Regions from separate parts of the Homo sapiens genome. Here all the other regions are linked to region 2. The links come from fine-mapping of genetic effects on gene expression. A gene starts in region 2. Each other region holds a variant in brackets. All regions are shown on one strand. Distances are between the middles of the regions. Region 1 overlaps CRTAM (cytotoxic and regulatory T cell molecule). Region 2 holds the start of JHY (junctional cadherin complex regulator). Region 3 overlaps JHY (junctional cadherin complex regulator).

The links.
Region 1: its variant is fine-mapped to the expression of JHY in monocytes (BLUEPRINT, PIP 0.91).
Region 3: its variant is fine-mapped to the expression of JHY in lung (GTEx, PIP 0.97).

The regions. Positions count from the first base shown.
Region 1 is chr11:122,844,917-122,847,416 of GRCh38, forward strand. The region is part of intron 1 of CRTAM (cytotoxic and regulatory T cell molecule); the gene reads left to right. Among named protein-coding and RNA genes, the nearest start is that of CRTAM, 7.7 kb to the left of the region's middle. The variant C/T (reference allele first, on the strand shown) is at 1,088.
Region 2 is chr11:122,881,192-122,884,044 of GRCh38, forward strand. JHY (junctional cadherin complex regulator) reads left to right here and starts at 1,568. Exons shown (of 9, transcript NM_024806.4): 1 at 1,568-1,781. RefSeq lists a silencer at 1,687-2,046.
Region 3 is chr11:122,938,074-122,940,926 of GRCh38, forward strand. All of the region lies in intron 5 of JHY (junctional cadherin complex regulator), which reads left to right. Among named protein-coding and RNA genes, the nearest start is that of BSX, 42 kb to the right of the region's middle. The variant C/T (reference allele first, on the strand shown) is at 1,549.

The DNA of each region.
Region 1 (2,500 bases), 36 kb before region 2:
GTTGGTGAAATCTAAAATAACACATTTGGGGGAAGAGAATCAAGAGTTTGTGTTGTACTTGTTAGGCTTTCAGACTTCTAACTGATCATCAGAAAGGTGATGAGGCCAGATGAGATGACCTATGGAGTGAGTATAGAGAGTCTATCCAGGATCTGACCTCCGTTGTGTGAAGGGCAGATTGATGAGAAGAACCCGGAAATAGAGCTGAGGAGCAGCAGCTGCCAGTGAGTTAGGAAGGGAGTCAAAAAGAGACTGACATCTAGGGAACCAGGTAAAGACACTGATTTAAGGGGCAGAGAGTGATCATATATGGCGAAGGAACACCATAGGTTGAATAAGATATGGTCTGAGAATGGAGCATTGGTTTGAGCAATGTGAAGGTCTTTGGCAACCTTGGCAAAGAGAGATTTCAACGAGGTAGTGGAGTTGAAAACCTGGTCAGAAAACAAAGAGTGGGATAAACAAATATAGATAGTTCTTTAGAAAAATGTGTCAGTGAAAGAGAGGGAAGGCAGGGCACGGTGGCTCATGCCTGTAATCCCAGCACTTTGGGAGGCAGAGGTGGGTGGATCACTTTAGGTCAGGAGTTCAAGACCAGGACAACATGGTAAAACTCCGTCTCTGTACTAAAAATACAAAAATTAGTCAGATGTGCTGGTGGGTGCCTGTAATCTCAGGTACTCGGGAGGCTGAGGTAGGAGAATTGCTTGCAACTGGGAGGTGGAGGTTGCAGTGAGCTGAGATCATGCCACTGCACTGCAGCCTGGGTGACAGAATGAGAATCTGTCTCAAAAAAATAAATAAATAAAAAGGAGGGACATAGGGTAGAATAGGGTAGTATAGGATAGTAGCTGGAAGGAAATCTGACATCATTTTGTTTATGCATTTTAATATGGGATGAATAGTATATATTTGTGTGCTGATGAGAATGACAGTTTTTTTTCTTAATTTTTTGTAAAGACAAAGTCTTATTATGTTTCCCAGGCTGGTCTCAAACTCCTGGCCTCAAGTGATCCTCCCACCTTGGCCTCCCAAGGTGCTAGGATTACAGGTGTGAGCCACCACATCCAGCCAGAGAATGATACAG[C/T]TAAAGAGAAAAAAAACAATGATGGTAGAATTATTTTTGTACCAAATCATCTTTTGAGAGATGGAGCAACACAGAAGGGAATTCCTTGTGTAAATAAATGAGATGGAAACTAGTGTCCAAGTGGAGATACCGGGTACCCACTCCATTCACAGCAATGTAGGGCACGCCAAGTATGCAGGATCTAAAAGCAAGTAGATGTGACTTGGGGATGACATTGAGAAACACATATGCAAATAAGTTAGCATTTCAATAGCAAACAATTTATGTGATGAAGAGAAGAGAGAAGTGGGAAAACATATTATTATTTAATTTAATTTATTTTTGAGATGGAGTCTTGCTCTATTGCCCAGGCTGGAGTGCAACAGCATGAACTCAGCTCACTGCAACCTCCTCCTCCCGGGTTCAATGATTCTCCTGCCCCAGCCTCCTGAGTAGCTGGGATTACAGGTGCCCACCACCACGCCAGGCTAATTTTGTTCGAGACCATGTTGGTCAGGCTGGTCTCGAACTCCTGACCTCAGGTGATCTGCTCACTTCGGCCTCCCAAAGTACTGGAATACAGGAGTGAGCCACTGCACATAGCCATAAATTTTATTATTTCACAGAGTTCTAACACCTCTGTCTGTCTGTCTGTCTGTCTCTCTCTGTCTTTTCATCAAATAATGATTGTGTACCATGAACTGAGTGGTATGATTAACTACACCTTTGGTTGGAATCTAAGGTCCAAAATGAAAAGAACTCATTATCACCATTTGCTCCTCAAAACCTTTAATCCTTCTGAACTGTTCCAATTTAGATTTACTGCGACTGGAACTGCTTCTTCCTTAATGTCTACTAGGACCTAACTGCTTCTTCCTTAATGTCTACTAGGACCTTAGAATGTTTAATAATAAATAGTCCTGTAACACTGGGGAAGGAGATCCCTAGTGAAGAGCTGCAGAGCTACAAGGCTTTGTCTTTTGACACTGACTCTTTCCACTTTTCTTTGTAAAGCAAGAGTCAGTTCAGCTTTTCAAATAATTATTAAGCACTATATACCAAGTAAAAGAAGAATGTCATGCTTACTATGGACTAAGTACTACACTAGGTTCTTTACATATATTTTTTAATTGCCTCAATGACTCTATGAGATGAATACTATTGTTTTTCCTGTTTTTATGGTAAGGAAATTCACACACTTAAATTGCCTAAGTTCGTGCTGTTAGTAGTGGAGGAGCCAGGATTCCAACCCAGTCAATTTGGCTCGTGTGCGTGTGTGTTACCATTGCATCATATGCCACCCAGGTTAGGGACACAGAGATGATTATAAACAGCTCCTCGGTGCAACAGGTTCAGATGGTACAAAGCCTAGGGGTCTATTGACAGATAAGACAATCAAGAGCCAGAATGTTCTCAGAAAGCTTGAACCCTCAC
Region 2 (2,853 bases):
ACCACGCCCAGCTGATTTTTGTATTTTTAGTAGAGACGGGGTTTTGCCATGTTGGCCAGGCTGGTCTTGAACTCCTGACCTCAGGTGATCCACTCGCCTAGGCCTCCGAAAGTGCTGGGATTACAGGCATGAGCCACTGTGCCTGGCCGAAGAATTCTCTTTTTTTTTTTTTTTTTTTTTTGACAAGGTCTCACTCTCACCCAGGCTGGAGTGCAGTGGCACAATATTGGCTGACTTCAGCCTCAACCTCCTGGGCTCAGGTGATCCTCCCACCTCAGCCTTCCAAGTAGCTCGGACTATAGGCACGCGCCACTACGCTCAACTAATTGTTAAAAATTTTCGTAGAGACAAGGTTTTGCCATTTTCCCCAGGCTGGTCTTGAACTCTTGGGCTCAAGCAATCCTCCAGCTCGGTTTCCCAAAATGCTGGGATTACAGGGTGAGCCACTGCACCTGGCCTCAAACCAATCTTTGAAGGTAGTTATTCAAATCTACTTGTTGTTTTAATGTGAAGATAATTCCTAATGCTTCCTTTCTTTATTCTTTTTTGAAACCTTTTTTGATAGTGAAATATTCTACCCATACATAAATGTACAGCTTAATGAATTTTTACAAGATGAACATCTATATAACCATCATTAAGGTCAGGAAATACAGTCTCAAAAACATTCTTCTCCCTACCTGCCAGAACCGACCACAATCCTAACTTGATGGGAATCACTAAGTGGGTAGTGTTTCCCATAAAATTGCTTTTTTGCTTTTTTTCATAGTTTCCTCCACTAAGTATGGAGCCACAATCACTGTAGAGTGTAATTTAGCCTGTTTTTTATATACAAAAATCATACAGTATGTACTTTTTCTGGGTTTTTGTTGTTGTTCAAAATTGTGTTTTTAGTATGCCTCCATATTGTTACACATAGTTGTATTTCATTCATTTACAGTGCTATGTAGTATGCCAGTATAGGCAATAGCATAATCTAATTAACCATTCTTTTGATGGATAGTTCAGTTATTTCCAGTTTGCATGCACAGGAGCACGCACTTCTTAGGGTAAATACCTAAAAGTGAAATTGCTGGATCCCAAGGCATACATATCCTGGCTAATGTCAAACCATTTTCCAAAATGGTTGGTTGCATCGGTTCTCACGTCCGCCCGCAGAAGGTGACGGTTCTTTGCACTACGTCCTCCCTAGCACCTGACGCTGCCAGACGTTTCAACTTTGGACTTTTCGACTCAACTTATGGTGAGTGTGGTATTATCCGCTGTGGTTTTAATTGGCCTTCTTCTGATTATTAATGAATTAAAGCATCATTTCAATAAACAGATATTTATTGGCCATTTAGATTTCTCGTGTGTTTGTGAAATACCTTTCCATTTACCCATTATTTAATTGGGTTCCTTTTCTTCTTGATTTGTAGCAGTTCCTCGCGTATTTTAGTAGTTTTATTTGTGGCAAAGATCTCCTCCCCCGGGTGGCCTCTGCCCTCCGGCGCTGGGAAGTCCGGGCGGCGAGGCAGCCTCTCCCGGGGCGTTCGGGCTCCTCCGGCTCTGCCCCGATGTCGTTATTACGGCCGTTTGCAGCCTCCGTGCCAGGGCCGGGGGTGCGGTTCGGGACGCGGGATCCTAGGTCGGGTCCTGCCCCGCCCATGTGGCGCCGGCGTCTGTGTTGTCTGCGGTCTCCAGGGCAGCGCCGGGGCGGGCGGGGGCCCGGGCGGCGGCGGCGGCGGCGCGGGAGGATGCGGGGCCCGTCCGGGTCGCGGCCGCGGAGGAGCGCCGGGCAGGTGACGGGCGGTGGCCTCCCGGATCTGGGGTGGGCGGCGCGCCCGGGGAGGGAAACGGGAAGGGCTTACTGGGGATGGGGACGGCAGGAAACCACCCAAGCAAGCTGGGGAGGAGCCGGCGCGGGAGCCTTCGGGACGGAGTGGGGAGCGACAAGGGGGCGAGGCCGCGACAAGGGGCTGGGGGGCCGCCATGCGAGGCTTCGGCGCCCGGGCACCCAGAGCAGCCCTGTTCCCGGTCAATTAGGACCGGTCCCGGGCACCAGGCCCGCCGACTTGTCACTTCCTGGACCTCCAAACGCCCCTTGTGACAGGCCTTGTTCCTCAGGAACAAGCAAAGGTAGAAAACCGAACGCCTCCCCTGGGCAGCTTCCGGCCTGTTTCAAACCAGGGTTCGTTCCTTTTTCTTTACGATTCATCTTGGTGAGCCCAAGCAGGGTTCCTTTTCCCCTCCAGGAGAAAGTTCGATTGTCCCATGCTAGTGGACTAGACCCACTGCAGGGATCCCTGGGGAGCTGGCCGCTTCTTAGTCCCTAGGTGCCATCGGATCTATCGCTGTCTTGTTTATTCAGGAGACTAGTCACCTCTCTTGGTCAGAAATTTCAGCGGCACAACCTTTTTTTTTTTTCACTGGACGGGAGGAGGGAGCCACATTCATGAAATTTAAACGCCCACTTTCTAACTTATTCAAGCTGTCAGCTGTTCCTTCTTCCACCCCATGTTTTGGTAAGATCAGGCCTCCACAGAAAACCCAGCTTTTGTGGCGTTTGGCTTTGCTCTTTGCATACTTTAGCAAACTTCAGGAATCTGCTAACATCAGCAAAATTATCTTCTGTGGTTACTGTTTTATTTTTTATTCATTCCAAGAAAGCTTAGCCTATTTCATTTAAGAAGAGAAGTTCAAGGGACTGAATTATTTTAAGAGTAATTCTAAGTTGCACTATAACGCTTAAGCTTGCTCTTCAGGATCTCAAATTCAGTGACCTTAGCTCCTCCAGTAAAACCGGTGTTAAACAATCTCTTTTACTTAAAATGTGTTAGTATTTGATAGATTTGCTGCTTTCTTGGCACATCC
Region 3 (2,853 bases), 57 kb after region 2:
TACTGAAGTGAAATTTCATAATATTGCGCCTTTGTATAGGTCTGTTTTCATAGATTGAGCTGGGGCCTTTAAACCTGAAAACATATGACCTTCAGTTCTGGGAAAATTTCTTGAGTCATCTTTATGGGTAGTTCCTTTCAACCATTTTCTGTTTGCTCTTTCTAGAAACTCCTGTGATTCAGATGCGTTTTTCCAGGACCGTTATTATGATTTTGTTTTCTCTTTCTTTCTCCATTTCTTTCTAATTTTGTTCTACTGTCTGGGAGGGTTTCTCAGTCCTAGCTTCCAGCCTTTCTACTGCTATCATGTTTGTTAATTTCCGACAGGATTTTTTTGTTGTTGTTTCTGTTATTGGTTTCTGAATGCTCCTCGTTTTATAGCCTCATGTTTTTGTTCATGGATACAACATCCTTTTTTCTCAACGTCTTCTTAGATTTTCAACAAGGCAAAATAGGGTGTAAGGGCCCTTGTGACTGAATTTTTAAGTGTTTTTAATTCCCTGCTTTGCTTCTCTTTCCTCTAGGTCTTTGTCAGTGATGTTTGTTTCTCTTCTCCTATTTTGCTGCCTTCCACCTTAGGGCTTGTGTCAGATGTCTAGCAATTCTTGATCATCTTCTCATGATCAAGTATGAGGGACTAGAAAGCTTATTGGAAGCTCTGAGTGACAGTGCTTGTTGACTTTGAGTGCCTATAGAATGATCTTTGGGTGCCATGTGATAGGAAGCCCTTCCTGTAGGTTTTAGGTCTTTTCTCTTGGTGGTCAGATTTATTATCTGTGCTTGGTGCTTCACAGGCAGAAGACTTGTTGGCTTCTTCAGAATGAAAACCTCCAGCGAGCTGCGGAGAGAGGGAAGGGACAGTTGCCTAGGTGCACAAAATGGAGAAGATGATCTGGAGATCCGCCTGCTTCTTCTTTTTTTTTTTTTTTTTCCGGAGACGGAGTCTCACTCTGTTGCCAGGCTGGAGTGCAGTGGCACGATCTCAGCTCACTGCAACCTCTGCCTACCGGGTTCAAGCGATTCTCCTGCCTCAGCCTCCTGAGCAGCTGGGACTACAGACGCCCATCACCACGCCTGGCTAGTTTTTGGATTTTTGGTAGAGACAGGGTTTCACCATGTTGGCCAGGATGGTCTCGATCTCCTGACCCCGTGATCCACCCACCTCGGCCTCCCAAAGTGCTGGGATTACAGGCGTGAGCCACCGCACCCAACCCTGACTGCTTCTTAAACAGACTTTCAACCAAATCTTTTTTAAGTAACTCTCACATAGACTTTCACCACCGCCACTCCCACTTACAGCTCATGAGCCTTACAGGATTCTATGGTGTAAACTGTGGCTTCTCTGCTTTCCCTGCTGCTAACTTAGATTCCACTTTTTTGAGTCTGCTAAGATAGTTACCATTCAACCATCTGTTCTCTGCTTCCGAAATATTTGCTCTTTTCCCCCCATTTTGTTCTCTTTATCTTCGTGGGTTGATGTCTTTTAAAAATCTCTTTATATATAATTTTGATTTGCATTTGAGAGTTAAATTGCATGCTTATTCTGCCA[C/T]GTTTTTTCTACCACCTTTTCATTTTGAAATTGTTCACACCTAGTAAAAACTTGGGGGAAAATATCTACAATAAACACCTGTAGTCCTTCATCTAGATTCATCAGTGCTAAAATTTTGCAACATTTTCTATCTATTTACTGAATCATTTGAAAGCAAGTTCAGAATCACAATATTTTATCTCTAAATATTTCAACATTCAGCCCCTAAGAATAAGGACATTGTCTTATACAACAATCACACCATTATCACAGCTAAGAATATTAACGTTATTGTACACAATATCATGTAGTATCAGTACATTTTTAAATTGTATTACTTGTCTCCAAAAAGCCTTTTACAGCTTTTTTTTTTTTAAATTCCTGATCCAGTATTCAGTGTTCATACATTTCATTTACTTTTTGTCCCTTTAATTAAAAAAAAAAAAATCTAGAACAGACTGGGCATGGTGGCTCACACCTGTAATCCCAGCACTTTGGGAGGCCAAGGCGGTGGATCACTTGAGGTCAGGAGTTCGAGACCAGCCTGGCCAACATGGTGAAACTCCCACTCTACTAAAAATACAAAAATTTGCTGGGTGTGGTGGCAGGCTCCTGTAGTCCCAGCTACTCGGGAGGCTGAGGCAGGAGAATCTCTTCAGCCTGGGAGGCAGAGGTTGCAGTGAGCTGAGATCCTGCCACTGCACTCCAGCCTGGGCAACAGAGTGAGGTTCTGTCTCAAAAAAAGAAAAAAAAATCTAGAACAAATTATCCAATGCTCACTTTTCATTGTTTTCTATAACATTGCCTTTTTAGAAAAAATTTATTGTTTTTGGATAGTTATATTTAGGTTGACCATTTCAGGCAAGAATACTACTTGGGTGATTTGGTGTACTTTTTATTACATTATACCAGGGGATACATACTATCAGGCTATCATATTATTGGTGATGCTAAGTTAAACCTTTTGATTAAGGTAGCGACTACCAGATCTCCCCATTGTAAAGGAACATTTTCCCTTTATAAGTAATTATTAATATTCGAGACAGTGTAATTATCCTAGTTTTCAACAGCTTTTTGTACAGTGGTTTTAGCATCCACTGACAGTGCTTACCTAAATCATCCATTACACTGGGGTTGCAAAATGGTGATTTTGTAATTCTATCAATACCTATACATTTATTACATGGCTGTTGAAATAAGACCTTTTCCTCTTCCTTTTTCTCCTTCCTTCCTTCCTTCCTTCCTTCTTTATCTCTCTCTCTCTCTCTCCCTCTCTCTCTAGTATCATTATGGACTCATAAATCTTTTCCTATAAACATGTTAAAG